4 separate regions of the Homo sapiens genome follow, and all the other regions are linked to region 2. Evidence: fine-mapped expression QTL. A gene starts in region 2. Each other region holds a variant in brackets. All regions are shown on one strand. Distances are from middle to middle. Region 1 has its middle 8.4 kb from the start of MAPK13. Region 2 holds the start of MAPK14 (mitogen-activated protein kinase 14). Region 3 overlaps MAPK14 (mitogen-activated protein kinase 14). Region 4 overlaps MAPK14 (mitogen-activated protein kinase 14).

What was found.
Region 1: its variant is fine-mapped to the expression of MAPK14 in whole blood (INTERVAL, PIP 0.97).
Region 3: its variant is fine-mapped to the expression of MAPK14 in whole blood (INTERVAL, PIP above 0.99).
Region 4: its variant is fine-mapped to the expression of MAPK14 in whole blood (TOPMed, PIP 0.98).

The regions. Positions count from the first base shown.
Region 1 is chr6:36,119,582-36,124,581 of GRCh38, forward strand. It overlaps a transcript of MAPK14 not described here. Among named protein-coding and RNA genes, the nearest start is that of MAPK13, 8.4 kb to the right of the region's middle. RefSeq lists a silencer at 1,087-1,136 and enhancers at 4,223-4,272, 4,333-4,382. The variant T/C (reference allele first, on the strand shown) is at 2,657.
Region 2 is chr6:36,025,054-36,030,248 of GRCh38, forward strand. It overlaps MAPK14 (mitogen-activated protein kinase 14), which reads left to right and starts at 2,755. Exons shown (of 12, transcript NM_139012.3): 1 at 2,755-3,220. The coding sequence starts at 3,105. RefSeq lists enhancers at 1-34, 2,366-2,805 and silencers at 2,996-3,095, 4,459-4,753.
Region 3 is chr6:36,053,662-36,058,864 of GRCh38, forward strand. The region is part of intron 2 of MAPK14 (mitogen-activated protein kinase 14); the gene reads left to right. Among named protein-coding and RNA genes, the nearest start is that of MAPK14, 28 kb to the left of the region's middle. The variant C/T (reference allele first, on the strand shown) is at 2,969.
Region 4 is chr6:36,086,600-36,091,788 of GRCh38, forward strand. All of the region lies in intron 8 of MAPK14 (mitogen-activated protein kinase 14), which reads left to right. Among named protein-coding and RNA genes, the nearest start is that of MAPK13, 41 kb to the right of the region's middle. The variant C/T (reference allele first, on the strand shown) is at 2,109.

The sequences.
Region 1 (5,000 bases), 94 kb after region 2:
GTGAAGACAAATGAACTAGAATGATTCCCCCACCACCACCCCAGACCCCTGATTTTGCCTCTGTCCCAGGAACAATAGGCAATGTCTGGAGACCTTTTTAGTTGTCACACTTGGAGGTGAGGGTGGTGAGCATCTAGTGGGTAGAGGCCAGGGATGCTGCTGAACATTTTGCGACGCACAGGACGGCCCCCACAACGAGGAATTACCCAGCAGAAACATGTCAGCAGTGCCGAGGCTGAGAAACAGAGACGACTCAACATCTTGGCAGATCTCACCAACAACCTTAAGTGAAAAAGGAGGCTGCAAAACGATCTATCTGGCATCGTTTACAGATGCATACGTATATAGTAAAACTAAAAGCAGACGAGAATAATAAACACCAACTTGTAGAGGGGTCACCTCTAGGGAGGGAGAGAGGGCATGGAATCAGAGAGGGGCATGAAAGGGCTTCAGCTGCCAAGAGCCAGACAGCTTAGGTTCTAATCCCGGTTCCACCACTGACACTGTGTAACCTCCGCAGGTTGCTTGATCAATCGGGGCCTCAGTTATCACAACTGTAAAATGGGATGATATTGATAATAGTGCCTTCTTCACAGGATTGTGGTGAGGGTTAAATACGTTAACCAATGTAGAGCACTTAGAACAGTGTGTGGCTCATAGTAAGAACTATATGTTTTTGTCACCGTTTTCATCATGATGATGAGTATCTATGATGTTCTATTTTTAAAATATCAGAAGTGAATATGGCATGTGTGTGAAACATCTCAGCGTTCTGCCTTGACAAGGACCTTCACTCCTCCTCCCACCCCCACCAGCCAAGTGAATTTCACCCTCAGCACTTAGTCTATATTTGTTAAGGCTGGCCATCCGGAACATACTCTCCAAATCTGAGACAATTCATCCAAGCAGTGTGTTTCCTTTTCCTCTTCCCCCACCACCACCGCCACCCCCCACCATGATGCTGGAAACTTTTCTTTATTGATACAGATGATGAGCAATGCGGTGATAAGTGTGTATCCCCCGGCTGTTTTCGCGTTTTCACTAAATTGATGGCTATGGGATTACCGGATTAACAAGGTGCACATTTTGACACTTTGGCAGCATTGCCAAATGGTTCTAAAAGCTTGCCCCAGTTGACACTCCCACCTGCCGACGACAGTGTTGTCACTGTTTCCTGTTGCCGCCCTCACTAGGGTAGGAGCTTCTCAAGCACAGGAACTGTGACATTTGTCCGTGTATTCTCAATGTCTTGAGAGGTGCCTGGCAAAATTTGGTTGAATGGATTAAGGCTTTACCTTAATCACCAGGTAGGTAAGGAGGATAGAGAAAAATAAGACACTCGTGCCCTCAAGAACTTACAATTTAGGTTTGTTTGAAAGTTAACTGAGAATTCCAAGTCTAAGGGTGCTGGTGAGAGTGGCCTGGCAAAGCCAGCCCAGGAAGAGCTGCTGAGCAGGTTGTAAGGAACGAGGATGCCCCACCCCCCCTCCTTGGCAAAGCAGAGGATGGTATTCCAGACAGGTCACAAACAGCTCAAGCAAAGACGTGGTGACAGGGATGAGGAAGGCACGCTTGCGGATCGCTAGAATGGAGGTTGCCTGGGCACAGACACCTTGGAGGATCCGATTAGCAAGAAAGGCAGGGCCTGTCCGGATGGGGGCAAGCCTTGCCCAACAGACTAAGAAGTTTAATCTTTATCCTAGAGGCCACTGAGAGCTACCGGGGGTGGGGCGTTATGGGGAGGCAGGGCTGCTCTGAAACAGGAAGATTAATCACAGCTGGGCTGCCTGCCGCTGGCTGCCTGTCACATGGGAGCTGTGCTGCCCTCAAGCTGCCCAGCTGGAGCACCCTCTTTCCAGGTGACCAAAGCTGGATCCGGGTGCCCCCTGGCTTAGGAAGGGCAGCCCTGGGCAAGTGTGAGGGAGTGAAGACCAGGCCTGAGAAGCAGGGAGAAGCTGTTTGTCAGGGAAGTGTAGTCACCAGGATCAGGGTGGCTTCCCCTCCACAGCCCCTTACTCATCCCTGTTGCCACACCTGTGCTCGGGCTGACAGTGACAGTGGTGTCCTGGAGCTCTCTGTGACTCTTATTTTTTTAGAGACAGGGTCTTGCAATGTTCTTTCTACTTAATTTTATTTCTTACAAAAGATTGGCCTTTCACAAGCATCATCCAGCGCAGCTAAGCATAGTGGTTACTAGCACTGACCCTGGGCAAGACTACCTGGTCTTCACTCCCAGCTCTAGTGCTTACTAGCTGTGTGTCCTTGGGCAAGTCACTTCACCTCTCTGTGTCTCATTGTTATACATAAAATGGGGGATACTGTTAACCCATCTCATAGAGTCCTCAGGAGGATTAAGTTACATGTATGTAAAGCTCTTATAACAACTTTTGGGAAGTAATTAGTGCTCTTTCCATGTTTATTAAATGCATATAATAGAAAATGAATGTATCCAGAGAGGCAGTCTGACTTACCTAAGGTCACACAGCAAATTAGAGACAGAGCTAGAATCAGAGCCCAAACCTCTGCCATGGCAGGTAGCCCTGCTAGTCTTGTTTGGGGTTATTTGCCCCTGACCAAGGTCCATAGGGCTTCTGGGGAGGATCTATGTGTCCTGACATTGGATAGTTTACTTAGAAGGGGTGGAGCAAGGAGACCC[T/C]GTGGCCTCTGCCCTGGACAGGCAGGTTGTGGAGGTGGCCTCCAGGGTGCACAGCTTCTCCTGCCTGAGGCAGGCTGCACACAGGAGTCCAGGCAGGACCTGACTCCATTACTGCGGTTTGTCAGGTCAGCACAGCAGAGACTGCCCCAGGCACGAAGGTGAGTTGGGCCTGCATATCAGCTGCACACAGACAGAGATGCAGCGATAACAAGGCTGCTGGGGATAAGGCCCTGCTACATCCCTGCCATTCGGCCAGTCACCGGCTGCCAGGCACTCTTCCAGGTACGTGGAATTCAGTGATGAACAAAATAGACAAAGCCCCTACCCTCGCCAACCTCAAGACATTCTATTAGAGGGGGGCAGACAATAAACAGGTACACAGGGCTTGAAGAACACGAGGCCAGGTAAGGCAGGTGAGCATGGCTTGTAATGAGGTCAGGGGGACCTCGGAGGAGGTGACACATGAGCAGTCCTGAAGGACCAGAGGGAGCACCATGCACAATGCCTGCAACCTGGCATGTGTTGCTTCAGTAAACCCTCCTGGTGTCCCTGGCTATGCAAGTGACATTCTCCCATCTTACTGATGAGGAAGCTCCACCTGTAGCTACAAATGGAGGCACGAGATTCAGACTCAGCCCTGTCTCCCAGAACTCAGCTACCTCTCTACTGGCTCACAGGAGTACAAGCACGCTTCAAGAATGTGGACGTCACAAAGCCTGTGGAGGGGGAAGCGGGTGGTGTGCAGTGGGGGTCTTGGGGAGAGGGATATGCACAGGGTTAGTGGGGTGAGTGGATCTAGAGTTCACTCGGGAACACCTCCTTGTAGATGTGAGTTTAGAGTTAGGCTTGGAAAGAAGGAAGGGAGGGAGAGAGGGAGGGAGGGAAGGAAAGAGGAAGGAAGGAAAGGTGGACAATTCCATAGGGAGAGGATCTGGCTCATGCAGAGCTTCAGTGGGAGTGGTGAGGAGGGCTGTCCACAGGGAGGAACCTGCTTTGGAGTGGATGGTGCAAATTCGTGGCAAGAGAAGAGGCCTCAGATTCAGGTTGTACACTCTGGTTCTTTCACCACCATACGAAGGTCCAGCCTCATGCTAGGACCTTGGGGGCCCCACAAGGATGAGGCCTCTAGGCCTTCCCTCAGGGAGCAAGGGAAGAACAGCAAAATCAGAAACATCCTAGGACAGATTGTATCAGACTGAACAGTGACCACACATCCCAGATCCCACCCTGTGGTAGGCTAGCCAAGCATATTCCCCTACTATTGCTTACTCGGTCCCACCATTTGGGTCTTCAAGCCACATCTTCCTCCTATGGGTAGTACCCAGAAGAGACACAAAACTCCTTGGTTGGTTCAGTCACTAAGTCTTTACTGAGCAGCTACAATGGGCCAGGCACAGTGCCAGGGGGCTCAGCAGTGGCCAGAATACTGCCCTCGCCCTTACAGAGTCATTGTCCAGAGGTGGAGAGGGACATGTCACAGGAGACAATGCAGATTAATATTATGCTGAATGCTACCAAGGACAAGGCCGAGATCAAACAGAGCGGAGGCCTGGGCACCAGACCTTACCCCAGCCACATCTTTGTAGGGTGGAGTGGAGGGTGACATGTGGGCTGGGTGCAGGGAGGCAGGCCTTAGGGGTGGAGTGGAACGGGGAGTGTGGACCGGATGGTGTGGGGAGGGAGGTGTGAAGAGGGGAAGCCTGTCATCCCGAACCCAGAAGGCTGGCTGAGAGGTGCCCGACTCACAGAGCTGTCCCCACCCCCGTCTTCCACCAGGGGGTGCTAAAGCTGAAGGAGGGGAGAGAGGAGGAGGTGGAGGAGGTGCAGGGGAGTGGGGGAGGGTGCCTTTTCTTTCTTGTCTCTCTTTCTCTCTCTCTCTCTCCTCCCTCCCTCCCTCCCTCCCTCCCTCCCTCCCTTCCTTCCTTCCTTCCTTCCTTCCTGCCTTCCTTTCGTTCTTTTTGAAATGCAGTTTCACTCTTGTTGCCCAGGCTGGGGTGCAGTGGCACGATCTCGGCTCACTGCAACCTCTGCGTCCTGGGTTCAAGTGATTCTCCTGCTTCAGCCTCCCAAGTAGCTGGGATTACAAGCAAGCACCACCATGCCCGGCTAATTTTTGTATTTTTAGTAGAGATAGGGTTTCACCTTGTTGGCCAGGCAGGTCTCGAACTCCTGACCTCAGGTGATCTGCCTGCCTCGGCCTCCCAAAGTGTTGGGATTACAAGCATGAGCCACCGCACCTGGCTGATGGTGCCTTATCTTTTGCTGCTGGGATGGATGTTCTGCTTGAGCCCTAAGTCTGCTGACCAGCCCTTGCCCCTGAGAAGGGGAAGAGGTAATGGGGAGA
Region 2 (5,195 bases):
CTCTGGATGCAGACATGCCATCTGCACTCACTCCCTTTACCCTCCTCCCACCCTATCCCTGTCCCTAGCACTGTCTCTCACTCCACCTTGTATTCCTGCTTGGCCCAGTTACAGTTTTACACTTGTTTGTTTGATGACTGTGTTAATGTCTACCTTATAATGCACTTTATGTATTCCTTTTTGTAAATCATCTTACCCCTATGAGGGCAAGGACTTTTATCCCTTTCATTAACTGTTTTATTATCAGTGCCTACAGCAGTGTGGTGGACATAGGAAGTATTCAATTAATTTTTGTTGAATGATTGCCCTCCCATTGATTGTAAGCTCCACACCGGCAGCAACTGTAGTTTTTAATCACTTTTAAACTGCAAGTGTTTGACACCTAGTAGGCATTTAATACACATTGGTTGAATGAGTGTATGAATATACTGCTTACTTTATCTTTACCCTTTCATTCACCCTCACCTCATCATCCCAATTTGTAGGATAAAAATGTGCATTTCTGAGGATTCCTACTTCCAAGCTTCCTCCTCACCCTTTGTAACCATTCCCTCATTCCCTTGATCCCCCCAACCCCATCCCTCATGTCTTCACAATCATGTTTTTGCTCTTACTTCCCCTTCACCCTCCATTACTTCTTAGAAAGCTTCCTATCCTCCCTAGTTTGGAACATTCTCAAGCAACATGTTTTTGTAGATAAGAGAATTCCAGCCTAAGCTACATTGGATCCAAAACAGCTTTCCATGAATCACCCATGACTATCTGTTTTTTGGTTTTATATTGCTTTCCTTGAAGAGGACTGAGGATACTGTACCACTTGAAATCATGGTCACTGTTCATAATTTTTTCAACAAATATTTATGACACATGTTTTATGTTCTAGACATTGTGCTAGATGTTGGGACAAGATATGCAAAGTCTGAGCCCTCCAAGGTGTGTATGACACAAAATAGAATAATCACGGGAAATGTTGAGAAATGTCCTGGCTTGGATCTAGTTATTTCTAATACAAGAAACTAAGAGAATGAGACAGGATCTGATTCTTCTGCTCATTGTAACAAGCTTTAGCATAGGCATAGGTTGATAATGGATGTAGGCATGGGGTTAGAATGCCTTGCCCATTCACATTTATCTTGTTTGGTTTTTACAAATGACTCTGTTAGTCGGGAATGCAGGGCAGGAATTCTCTCGTAGAAGCTGGAACTGAGGTTCAGGAAAGGTCAGTTGACTTGCCTAAATTCGATGAGACTCCTGCCCTATTCTCCTTACTCGAAGAGGCCTGAGTTAAATGCTTAAAATCCTCTTCACTGATGGCTCTTCAGGATAGGAGTCAGTTTCAAATCTTCAGTGTAACGGTTTTTTAAATGCTTCTCAAAGGGAGATATCAGAGACTTTCCTGAATCAGAATCACCTAAGATGTATTATAAAAATGCATGCTCTTGATCAAGACCTCCTCTGACCTACCCAATTAGACTCCCTGTGAGTTCTGGGAACTTGCATCTTAAACTCCCAGGGTGATTTTTCTGCATGTAAGTTTAACTGGGAGAGTTTTAATGTAAAGCTTCGGTTTGTTTTTGTTTTTGTTTTTGTTTTTGAGACGGAGTCTCCCTCTGACGCCAGGCTGGAGTGCAGTGGCGCGATTTTAGCTCACTGCAACCTCCGCCTCCTGGATTCATGCAATTCTCCTGCCTCAGCCTCCCGAGAAGCTGGGACTACAGGGTCGTGCCACCACGCCCAGCTAATTTTTGTATTTTTTTTAGTAGAGACGAGGTTTCACCATGTTGGCCAGGATGGTCTCTATCGCTTGACCTCGTGATCCACCCGCCTCGGCCTCCCAAAGTGCTGGGATAACAGGTGTGAGCCACTGAGCCCAGCCCCTGGAAAGCCTCAGCTTTGATGCAGGGTTAACATTTGCCTTTGGGACATATTTCGTCAGCATCTCAAAGAGTAACCCATATGTCCTTGAGCAGATGGGAATGCAACAGCCTTCTGGCCGGAACCTGTCTCTTTCTTTCTTTCTTTCTTTTGAGACGGAGTTTCGCTCTTGTTGCCCAGGCTGGAGTGTAATGGCACGATCTCGGCTCACCGCAACTCCGCCTCCCGGGTTCAAGCGATTCTCCTGCCTCAGCCTCCCGAATAGCTAAGACTCCAGGTGCGCGCCACTACGCCCGGTTAATTTTGCATTTTTAGTAGAGACGGGGTTTCTCCATGTTGGTCAGGCTGGTCTCGAACTCCCGACCTCAGGTGATCCGCCCGCCTCGGCCTCCCAAAGTGCTGGGATTACAGGCGTGAGCCACCACGCCCGGCCACTTGTCTCTTTTTTATGCAAGTGTTTTTTGGAATTTGGGGGTTCAGGTGAGCAGGTGCTCTGCTGCTGGTAACTACTCGCAGTTAAAGATCTTTTGACTCTTTCCCCGACACGCTATTTGTCAGTGTCGTTTTCCACCACAGAGCCAGGTATTTGCCCCGCCGGCCACGGTGAGGCGCGCGAGGCGTGTGCTGCCAGCTTCTCTCTTCCTTCCCCGGTCCGCCTTCGCGCCCTTAAGGAGACAGTCCCTGGGAGTTTCTGCCTTTGGTCTCCAGTTATTGTTCTCTTCTCGCGAGAACTGCTCCTCCCATCCTCTTCTCTCACGAAGCCCCGCCCGCGGAGAGGTTCCATATTGGGTAAAATCTCGGCTCTCGGAGAGTCCCGGGAGCTGTTCTCGCGAGAGTACTGCGGGAGGCTCCCGTTTGCTGGCTCTTGGAACCGCGACCACTGGAGCCTTAGCGGGCGCAGCAGCTGGAACGGGAGTACTGCGACGCAGCCCGGAGTCGGCCTTGTAGGGGCGAAGGTGCAGGGAGATCGCGGCGGGCGCAGTCTTGAGCGCCGGAGCGCGTCCCTGCCCTTAGCGGGGCTTGCCCCAGTCGCAGGGGCACATCCAGCCGCTGCGGCTGACAGCAGCCGCGCGCGCGGGAGTCTGCGGGGTCGCGGCAGCCGCACCTGCGCGGGCGACCAGCGCAAGGTCCCCGCCCGGCTGGGCGGGCAGCAAGGGCCGGGGAGAGGGTGCGGGTGCAGGCGGGGGCCCCACAGGGCCACCTTCTTGCCCGGCGGCTGCCGCTGGAAAATGTCTCAGGAGAGGCCCACGTTCTACCGGCAGGAGCTGAACAAGACAATCTGGGAGGTGCCCGAGCGTTACCAGAACCTGTCTCCAGTGGGCTCTGGCGCCTATGGCTCTGTGTGGTGAGTGTCGCTGGGCCTGGGGCCGCTGTGGGCAGGGTGGCCCCTCGCGCCCGAGGGCCAGGCCTGCTCCACTGCTCAGCGTTGCGTCAAGTGGCAGGAATTTTCCTCGGGGGAGGGCATTGCTGCCCCTTCGAGCTCTGCCCGTTCTGCACCTCCAGCACCCCTCGCCCTGCACTCACGCAGGTATGCGGTCCACCGTGTGCAGCACTCAGGTCCGCTGCGAGAGGTAGGTGGTGGTGCTGGAGCTCGGTTCTGGCTAGCACCCTGCGCCTTCCCCTCTCGGAGGGTTGCTGCTCGGCAACAGGCACCGGGGGAAGGGCCGCTTCCTTGGGGGTCTCCCTGCCTACCTGGAGCAGAAGGACCCTCTCCCGTGATGCGCCCACGCTGGGGCTCCGGACCCTGGGTCCTCTGAGCAGACAAGCTCGGGGAACTGCCGGGAGAAGCAGAAGGGCACAGCCCAACCCGAAGACTGCGGTCATCTGAACAAAACTGACCAGGAAGGGAGCTCTCTCCGGGCCTTTTTTTTTTTTTTTTTTTTTCAAAACTCTGTCGAAATCCCATCTTGAAAAGCGTTCTTTTTGAATTCGCACTTGAATTAACAGCGATCCATAGAGCTTAAAATACCGACTTTATCTCGGTGAGCACTGTGCCAGCTTGAGTGGTGTGTTTCCGATTCGGTTGAAAGCGTATTTCCTTTCCGTGGAGGGGCGGCGGTGGTAGTGCCTGCAAGAACACTGCAGCTTGAGAAACTGGCAGGCTCACTGATTAGTCACATACCACTGCTCATTTAAGTATTGTTCGACAAAACAATTTTCTCATTTGGAGCAAGAAAGATTCAGATCTGTAAGGCGCCCTCAAGATCAAAAAGTTATTAACAGTGCTGGGAGGTATTGTAAATATTTTTTGAGATAATTCCTGCGAATACTGTGTTTTAAAAGTCCCTTAGAGAGCTTGCAGGGAGTTATCTAGTTATCTGCATTTATGGCCTGAGGTACACGATGGTTTTCGTAAGGATATGGAACCACATAGAAAAGGAAGGGAAGAGATACTTTTTAGCTTTAATTTACACCGTGAGTGTGTTTTAAATTAAGTCGATAGCATATAATTTCCAGACCTGAAATATTTCACTAACTGCTCTCTTAACTTCCAAGGTTTTATACCCTGTATTTTAGATTTTCTATAATTTGAAAGCTACGGATCTTAAACTAAGTATCAGATTTAACTGTTAGCTTTTTCTGTGTTTTAGTAATTCGTATTGTATGCGTCATTTGAAAACGGGCCTGTAAAATCGTTTTTTTGTTTTGGAACAAATTCCAGGCTTTTGGATGTGTTAATCTTTAAATATGATTTCTGTGTTTCCCAAAGTCACATCATGAATTTCCTGTTTGGTAGAATCTTCTGGGTAATTGAGATTGTGCAATTGTGTCCAGCAACAGATCATATTGCATTTTCTAGTTCAAGTTGCTTAAGTTATGTTGCAGATAGCACCGTGCTTGACATCTTTCTCCCATTTTTACAGCATGGCAGTTTACATTTTAAAGGAATTTGCAGCATTTTACATTCAGAGAGTGTGTGTGTGTAGTTGGTTTGCAGCATTTTACATTCAGTATATACATATTATATAGGTATATACATTCAGTATATACATATTATATAGGTATATACATTCAGTATATACATATTATATATATCTAGTTGATTTGCTAATTTTCAAAGACGTATTTGGATCATTGCTCTTTTAATATTTTATAGCTCATTAATATACTTCCATTTTTTCATTCTTGAATTGACATACATTTCTGTAGTATCACGTTTTCGTTTTCAATGCTATTTAAATTTTAATGGAGTGATACAGCAGAATAACTCAACTATAGAGGGTTTGGGTGAACTCCAATTGAATTGCTTGCAAGGGTTCGCTACTATTGGTGACTAGCTCTGCACTGGAACAGGAGATTCAGATTTACAGTGAAGTACC
Region 3 (5,203 bases), 29 kb after region 2:
CTGTACTGCTTGTTACCTTGTGGAAGAAAATTCAAAATCTGTGAATTTATTATTTGACTATTTAGACTGTTTTAGTAATTTAACTTCTTCATAGCGAGAAAAAAGTCACAGATAAGTGACTCTTCATTAGCGTACATTTGTTTCATTAGTGCAAATTTCTTCTAAATTGAGAACATTAAGACTTAAATTTGTAATTGGATTATGGATGCCATTATAATCACAGCTGCTGCTTTTTATTTTCACATTTTATTTTGATTGTATGCTATTGAGGAAATCCTATTTCTACAGACAACTTCTATTCCTGAGTATAATTTTACTTAAGTAGCTATGTGCAAACCAGAGTTTTAAGAATGTTCAGTGTGAAGCTGCAGCCTTCCTAATCAGTGACATGTTTACAAGAAGTTGAGATATGCGGAAAAAGCTGGCAGCAGAAACTTTATTCCTAGGTCTGCATAAAATCAAAGTGGCCTGGCAGCTTTAAGGGATGTGTTTGCGTTTGATTTTTAACACATTTAAGTGTGTATGCTGTTTTTCATTACACATTATTATATGTGACAGAGACAGTGTCACAGCTTTGCAAGTATAAAGGATATTTTGAAAGTGAAATGCAAGCCAAACATTTATGGAACCCCAGAGCACCTTTGGGAGCCACTAGGATCCTATTGATGTGGCTATGCTAATTTAAGAACATCTGGTTTAGGAGATTATCAGTGCTACACTGATTGTTTTGCTTTTCTTCATAAATATGTTAAGCCAATGTTTAGGGATCATGGTATTAGAAAAATAGGATTTTAATTTCTATACATTGTTTTATAAGTGGCTTGCTTACTAGCAGTCTTTTTTTTATATAAAGATGTTTAAGTTCTAACAGTTGGTGGTCACCTAGATATCAGTGATTTGTTATTTAAACAAAATAAGGCACATGGCTGAATGTCTCATAGTTCTCTATTCCATTGGCAAATGTTTGAAGCCAAAAGACTTGACTCAATGTAGAAAAATTCCTGCATTTTAGCCTATTTTGAAAACATTTGTTAGGTGCTTATAATGTCAAAGTAGTTTTACCCAATAAAGAACCAAAACTTCCGGTAAGTTTAATTGAGGGTTTTCAGAGAAATTCATCTCGTTTACCCTCCTCTTCTTTTTTAAAAAATTACTGTTTTGGGTCACCATCCAATTTTTATAGCGGCCAAACCTCCCACAGGCAGCAGCAACAGGCGCTTAAAACTTGTGAACATTTTAGGTGTTGGTAACAAATACAATTTTCAGGTGCCAGAGGGCACATGTGATCTTTTACACAAAAATGCCTCTGACCCACAATCGGTAGTTCATCTTGAATTGTCTCTTCTGTTAGTGATCATGAATAATAGATAAACATTTATTAGGTGAGTGACTGAAGCTAGGGGATGTCCTCTGTGACTGTGAGAGTTTCTCTCTGAACAAAGTTAGTTGGACCATTCCTGATTGAACTTCTGACCTTGATCTCGTTAACACCTGCTCTAAGGAAAGATTAAAGGGAGGCAGCCTGCCAGCTGCATCCTTTGCTGTCTGGGCAGACACTACAGAGATGGCCCATATATGGGCCTAGAGATCTGTACATTTTAGAATTTAAAAATGATCAAGGAAATTGTTTTGTAAATTTTATTTGGGAGCCTTAGATTTAACCTTACCATTGTAGACCAAGAGATTGTTTTGGTGTGCTTTTGTTAAATATGCTAAATATTGTCTCTGGATACTGAGTTAAAGTATTTTTTTTTGGATGTGTGCTAATTTAATAAAAATACGACTTAATATTTGCCAGGCTTTGGACCATGATGGGATAATCATTAGAGATATTTGCTGCTTATTTGTATTATGAATGTCTTTTCTAAAAATTTGATTCCTGGGTTACTTTGAGGTGACTGAAGTCATGTAACAGCAGAAGGAGTTAAGGAAATAGACTAAAATATGACTTGATTTAGAAGGGAATTTCCATTTAAGAAATGAGAAATGGCTGGGCGCAGTGGCTCATGCCTGTAATCCTAGCACTTTGGGAGGCCAAGGTGGGTGGATTGCTTGAACCCAGAAGTTTGAGACCAGCCTGGGCAACATGGCAAAAACCAGTCTCTATTATTATATTAAAAAAAAAAAAAAGAAATGAGAAATGAATAGATTCCTAAAATATTTTCCAGATCTATTTTAATGCTGATAAGCTTTTGTTTTACAGTATTTTCCTTATGATTAATATTCATAAGTATGATTAATGGAGTGAGGGATATTTTGTAAAAACCCATCAAAAATTTAAGTACTTTGATTTAGCATGGGTAGTTTTAATCTCAAAATTGTTATTTTCGGTGTGCTTATGTTAAACACATTAAATATTGTAAATATTGCCCTTTTTAGGAAATTAAAATTTGGTAGGGTATTTACTAGTTGGCTTTTCTCTATTTTTTTTCAGGTTACTTTATTTTTCTTCTTGCAGTCATGGTTTTTAATCATTTGAATAGTTGAGCTTTATGTCTCATATTCTGTTAATGGAAGTAGCTGCTTCAGATAGTTTGCTTAGGTATATTGTATTTTGTAATTGTCTATTCAACTGTGTGGGCTGTGGTCACCACTTATTTTGATGATCCACAGTGGGTCAGCCTTTTGTACTAGGCACCTTCAGATACATTGTCTGCTCAGTCTTGCTGTCAGTACTGTGAAAATAAGCAATGATGTCCTCATGTTTTTCATATGAGGAAAATGGGACTCAGAGAAGATACCAAATGTATTTGCCAATTATTATTTACATAACAGCCATTCATTGAACTCCTGCTGAATGCCAGGCTCCATTCCAAGTGCCAGCGTTATTGGAATGAAGAAATTATAAGCTCTTGGACCCAAGAAATCACAAACTGATACTGGGGTTCAAACTTACAGCTGCTTGGTTCCAAAATGTCTGTTGTGTTTTCAGTTTGAAATTGGAGTTTTTATTTGAAAATAGTTTTGA[C/T]TTTTGTCTTTTGAGGTAACTCTTGCATGTGTAAATCAGATCTCTAATGATTTAGTTTTATTTCCATAGGAGGATTTTCACAATCACAATGGAAACACTGTAAAACAATGTAAATAGTTTTAAACTTTTCTATTGTTTTGAGGAGATGGGCATCTCAGATAACAAGAATCATTGATTAGAAAATATTGGAACGGTGAATAAAGTTAGCTTCTAGACCTCAGTTACCTTAAGTAGAAGTGGGTATAAGGGAGAGTGATTAAAAGACCAGAGGTCTTAAGCCAGGAGTATACCAAACTCAAGGGAAACGATTATGGTTTAGATGGAGAAGGTAAAAGGAAATGGATTTGACTTAAATTTAAAGCACTATTGTGAATGAGGTCACAGGTACTCTATTGGGAGGCATGTAAGTTGGCCTTACCTCTATGGAGGACCATTTGACAATATTAAGATCCTTAAATATATTGGTGTCCTTTGATTCTGTAATTCTGTTTCTTGAAATTTATTTCCTGGAAGAAAATATGAGATGTGCAAAATACATATATTTTTCTTGCAGTATTCCTTAAATGTCTAGAGATAGGAAATTGGTTAAGTTATGGTATACACAAATGATAGATATGCTGTATACAAATATTTAAATATTAAGTAAAAAGGCAGGATATAAAACTATGCATGGTGTAACCCCAATTTAATTTATGTACATCAGAAAATCAAAGGAAATATATCTCAAAATGTTAATGATAGTTATAATGGGTGGTATAATTATGGGTAATTTTGGTTTTCTTATGTACTGTTGTCTGGGTAAGATCTGAAAGTGATTCTATTTCCTTTGGAACAATTTTCAAGGACTTGAAACCTATTCTTGAATTCCAAGTATGTGTCCCACCACCTCCTTTTCAGGTTCAGACTGTAAAATTAAAGTTGCTTTTAAAAAGTGACATTTGGAGTCGGGCGTGGTGGTGCATGCCTGTTATCCCAGCTACTCGGGAGGCTGAGGCAGGAGAATCACTTATACCCAGGAGGCAGAGGTTGCAGTGAGCTGAGATTGTGCCATGCACTCCAGCCTGGGCAACAGGAGCGAAACTCTGTCTCAAAGAAAAAAAAAAAAGTCTGATATTTGGATGAGTGGAGTAACATCCTAATTAGAAGATCTTTTTCATGATAATGTTTTGAGTGTTAACATATCTTACTTCTAGAGCTTTGTGTTTAAGTTGGCAGTTTAGAACAGTGTGCTAGTGAGGCCACAGTCTTGCTTCATAACCAGATACTCTCAAATATGGCTGGGCGTATTACAAATGAATTATATATTTCTTATTTGCCTTGTCAATGCCTAACTTTGTAGAAATGAATGGCCTGGGTTTTAAGGAAAATAGATGGGAGGTAGGGGTTGGAGGGTGCTGTATGTGGATAAATCAGTATAAATTCCTGATCAGAAAAACTGCTCAAAGACCATGGGTTATTGAGTATTAAGTAGCTCTTTGCTTTATCCCTGTGTAAAAATAGACTTTTTTTTTCATTTTTAAATTGTCTGATTTAAATACCCTATACATTAAGACTTTGTGAGAATAATACCAAGAATATACTGAGAATATTTTGAGACTTTAAAAATGTCAGTTTTGAAGCATATACAGTTAATATGGAAATTTTTCGTGGAATACATTTTTAAAAAACACAATATTACGGTAACAACCATGGATGTGTGACCTTTTTCACCTGTTGGATTAATTCATTAGACCATTAGTACATACGTAAGGCAAGGACCCTAAATCTTTTTGCCTTCTGATAAACTACTGACTACATATGAATAAATTCTAAAGAGATGAAGATTTTTAATGGTAAAGTGGGTTAATATGAGAATTGATGTTAACAAGTAGAAAACAAAAGCATAATTTGGGTAGAAAATTAGTTGGAGTTATTAAGTATATGATGTGATGTTATGGAACTGAGGTAGCTGGTTTTGAATTAGTTCCTATTAAAATGATTGAGACGTGGCTGGCCGTGGTGGCTCACTGCTGTAATGCCAGCACTTTGGGATGCTGAAGTGGGAGGATCGCTTGAGGCCAGAAGGTCAAGACCAGCCTGGGCAATCTAGTGAGACACATCTGTACAAAAAAAGAAAAATTAGCTAGGCATGGTGGTGGCACGTGCTTATAGTCCCAGCTACTTGGGAGGCTGAGACAGGATTGCTTGAGCTGCAGTGAACTGTGATGGTGTCACTGTACTCTAGCTTGTGTGTCA
Region 4 (5,189 bases), 62 kb after region 2:
AGGAAAACGTTGAATCTACCAATAACAAGTTCTCAAATTGAGGCAGTAATAAATAGCCTACCAAGCAAGAAAAGCCCAGGACCAGACAGATTACAGCCAAATTCTACCAGAGGTACAAAGAAGAGCTGGTACCATTTCTTCTGAAACTATTCCAAACATACAAAAGGAGGGACTCCCCTATAACTCATTTTATGAGGCCAGTATTATCCCAATACCAAAGCCTGCCAGAAATACAACAGAAAAAGAAAACTTAAGGCCAATATCCCTGATGAACATCGATGCAAAAATCCTCAGTAAAATACTGGCAAACCAAATCCAGCAGCATGTCAAAAGCTTATCCATCCACCACGGTCAAGTCAGCTTCATCCCTGGGATGCAAGGCTGTTTTAACATATGCAAATCAATAAACATAATTGATCACATAAACAGAACTAAAGGCAAAAACCACATGATTATCTCAATGGATGCAGAAAAGGCCTTTAATAAAATTCAACATCCCTTCATGTTAAAAACTCTCAGTAAACTAGGTGTTGATGGAACATACCTCAAAATAAGCCATGTAAGACAAACCCACAGCCAGTATCTTACTGAATAGGCAAAAGCTGGAAGTATTCCCCTTCAAAACTGGCACAAGGATGCCCTCTTTCCCTACTCCTATTCAACATAGTATTGGAAATTCTGGCCAGGGCAATCAGGCAAAAGAAAGAAAGAAAGGGTATTCAAATAGGAAGAGAGGAAGTAAAACTCTGTTTGCAGGTGACATGATCCTATATCTAGAAAACCTTGTTGTCTCAGCCCAAAAGCTTCTTAAGCTGATAAGCAACTTCAGCAAAGTCTCGGGATACAAAATCAAAGTGCAAAAATCACAACTATTCCTATACACCAACAGTAGGCAAGCAGAGAGCCAAATCATGAATGAACTCTTATTCACAACTGCTAAAAGAGAATAAAATACCCAGAACTATAGCTATTAATAACAAGGGAAGTGAAGGACCTCTTCAAGGAGAACTACAAACCACTGCTGAAGGAAATCAGAGAGGACACAAACAAATGGAAAAACATTCTGTGCTCATGGATAGGAAGAATCAATATCATGAAAATGGCCATATTGCCCAAAGTAATTTATAAATTTAATGCTATTCCCATTAAACTACTGTTGACATTCTTCACAGAATTAGAAAAAAACTTTAAAATTCATATGGAACCAAAAAAGAGTCCATATAGCCCAAACAATTCTAAGCAAAAAGAACAAACCTGGAGGCATCACACTACCTGACTTCAAACTATACTACGAGGCTACAGTAATCAAAACAGCATGGTACTAGTACAAAAACAGACCAATGGAACAGAATAGAGATCTCAGAAATAAAACTGCACATCTACAACCATCTGATCTTCAACAAACCTGACAAAACGAGCAATGGGGAAAGGATTCCCTATTTAATAAATGGTGCTGGGAGAACTGGCTAGCCATGTGCAGAAAATTGAAACTGGACCCCTTCCTTACACCTTATACAAAAATTAACTCAAGATGGATTAAAGACTTAAATGTAGAACCCAAAACGATAAAAACCCTAGAAGAAAATCTAGGCAATATCATTAAGGACATAGACATGGGCAAAAATTTCATGATGAAAACATCAAAAGCAATGGCAACAAAAGCAGAAACTGACAAATGGGCTTCTGCACAGCAAAAGAAACTATCGTCAGAGTGAACAGACAACCTACAGAATGGGAGACAGTTTTTGCAATCTATCCATCTGACAAAAGTCTAATATCCAGAATCTACAAGGAATTTAAACAAATTTACAAGGAAAAAACCCATTAAAAAGTTGGCAAAGGGCCAGGCACAGTGACTCATGCCTGTAATCCCAGCACTTTGGGAGGCTGAGGCAGGTGGATCACGAGGTCAGGAGATCGAGATCATCCTGACTAATTTGGCGAAACCCCATCTCTACTAAAAATGCAAAAAATTAGCCAGGCATGGTGGTGTGCGCCTGTAGTCCCAGCTACTCAGGAGGCTGGGGCAGGAGAATGACGTGAACCCAGGAGGCGGAGCTGGCAGTGAGCCGAGATCACACCACTGCACTCCAGCCTGGGCGACAGAG[C/T]GAGACTCCGTCTCAAAAAAAAAAAAAAAATATTGGCAAAGGACATGAACAAACACTTCTCAAAAGAAGACATTTATACAGCCAACAAACATGAAAAAAAGCTCAGTGTCACTGACCATTAGAGAAATGCAAATGAAAACCACAATGAGATACTGTCTCATGCTAGTCAGAATGGTGATTATTAAAAAGTCAAGAAACAACAGATGCTGGTGAGGCTATGGAGAAATATGAACACTTTTACACCGTTGGTAGGAATGTAAATTAGTTCAACCATTGTGGAAGACTGGTGAAATCCTCAAAGACCTAGAACCAGAAATAACATTTGACCCAGCAATCCCATTACTGGGTATATACCCAAAGGAATATAAATCATTCTGTTACAAAGATACATGCATGTGTATGTTGATTGCAGCAGTATTCAGAATAGCAAAGACATGGAATCAACCCAAATGCCCATCAGTGATGGACTGGATAAAAAAACATGGTACATATACACCATGGAATACTATACACCCATAAAAATGAATGAGATTGTGCCCTTTGCGGGGACACTGATGGAGCTTGAAGCCATTTTCCTCAGAAAGCCAAACACCACATGTTCTCACAAGTGGGAGCTGAACAATGAGAACACATGGACACATGGAGGAGAACAACACACGCTGGGGCCTGTTGGTGGGGTGGGGGTCAGGCGGAGGGAACGCATCAGGATAAATAGCTAAGGCATGCGGGGCTTAACACCTAGGTGATGGATTGATAGGTGGAGCAAACCACGATGGCACATATTTACCTATGTAACAAACCTGCACATCCTGCACTTGTATCTCAGAACTTTAATTTAATTTTAAAAAAATATAAGAAATACTCATTTTTGTCTTAAAGCCAATAATGTGTTATCAGATTAGAAATTATTCTTGTTTGTGACTTTGCAGAACCCTTCCATCTGGCCTAATGATAGCATTATTATTTTTTAAAGAATGAAGCCCTTTCTTAAAAGCCTAGTTGACTAGGGATATCAAGTGGACACAGCTGACAGAACTTTGTACTAGAAAGGAGGGAGGATACAGAATGTCTCTTCAGGTACAGTACTAACTTATTTCAAATACCATAGATCTTGAAATGAATAAGCCACTTTGAAAATTCTGTTACCAACGCTTAACACTCTGCAGCTTAAGGAAGAGAGAAAGTTTTATAGCCCTGTTATGCATCAAATACCGTTTTTCTACCAGAGATCACAGCCTTGGCTTGCTGTTGTTTTCCTTTTCTCCATAATCAAGTGAATTTCCTTATGTGTAAAACCTTCTTTAATTTTAACAGAAATGGTGCTCTTAAGACATAATGGGTTAATGGAGCTGAGTTAAAATCCACTTGCCATCAGTTACTGCCCTGGTCTATGGGAGTTTTCCTAGTGTATTAAATTTGCTTCTTATATATTTTTTTTTATTTCTTCTTTTGCAAACATGTTTTGAAATATTTCAGACATACTGCTAGACAAAGAATAATAAACACCTCTGTTCATACTGTCCTGCTTGTGAGTTAAAACACTGGCAATAGAGCTAAAGCTTCTGGAGACCCTTCTCTCACATCTGCCCATCACTTTCAGTCATTGGTTTCAAATACTCTTTCTTTTTTTTTTTGAGATGGAGTCTCACTCTGTTGCCTAGGCTGGAATGCAGTGGCGCAATCTCGGCTCACTGCAACCTCCACCTCCTGAGGCTGGTCTAGAACTCCAGACCTCAAGTGATCTGCCCGCCTTGGCCTACCAAAATGTTGGGATTACAGGTGTGGCCACTGCACCCTGCCAAATATTCTCCCTCTCTCTCTTTTTTTTTTTTTTTGGAGACAGAGTCTCGCTCTGTCGCCCAGGCTGGAGTGCAATGGCGCAATCTCTGCTCACTGCAACCTCCACCTCCCGTGTTCAAGCGATTCTCCCTGCCTCAGCCTCCCGAGTAGCTGGGATTACAGGTGCACGTCATCACGCCCGGCTAATTTTTGTATTTTTAGTAGAGACAGGATTTTGCCATGTTGGCCAGCCTGGATGTTCTCTCATTTTTAAAAAGCAGTTTCACTTTAGACACCAAAAGCAAGTGTCCAATAAATGCTGAAGAAGAAAAATATTTTATTAGGTTATTTGCCCTTTCCTCTCTAACTTGAAAATACATTTTCTCAGGAAAAGGTAGAATCCTCAGATTTGTCCATAAACCAAGGGTCCCTTAAGAAATTTTCTTTGTGTTACAGTGAAAATGACTATTTTGACAACTTGGAAGATAAGGAGCTAGGCTAAGTCTTATTCTAGTCTATCCTGTCTGTCACCAGGAAGATTTCCTACCTTCCCAAAGGTTAGTGCTCCACTTCACCCCTATGTGGATTTATGTCTTTGAAAATTACTGCTCATGGCAGGTAGGTCCTGCAATTGGTCCTTTTATTTATCTTCAACTTTCTGGCCTGTGGAGGTTTTTTAGGAGTGCCTGGAGCACTTAGAACTGACTAGAATATCCCTCTTTTACTTTCCCTAGAAATATCCTGTTATGCTTAGTTTTTTTGTTTTTTTTTTTCTTTACCTGTTCATTCTGACTGACTTGCTTCTGTTAAAGATGACTTCGTCTAAAGAGTAATCTTAGGCTTAAGTTGTTCTTTTCTTCATTTGTTTTAGAAAGATTCAGGAGATTTATGATTTAAATTTTGACGTTGTGATCATTACAATTAAAACACATTTTAAACTAATAGTAAAAATATTTTCTACCTAAGAGAAACAGGGCTAAACCTATTACAAAGGATGGCTCACTGTGGAAATAACTGATTGTCATGATGTGGTGAGTTTTGCTTTACTCCGCTAATGTGGCTACGTGACGCTCCTTCTGGTCTTAACTGCCTGGACAAATCATAGTGGCCTTATAGTAGCTGGTACTGTTGGAAGACTGGCCTGTATTTCAGTGGATTTGCCAGCTTTTGAAGAACCCATGGTGATTTCTTCTGAGGTTTGCATGTTTTAACTTCCTTCATGCAAATGCTTTTAGTTACTAAGATTTTTATTTTATGTTGTGTGTTTTTCCATGGAGTATGGTCATTCTGTGTTTTGAGGGC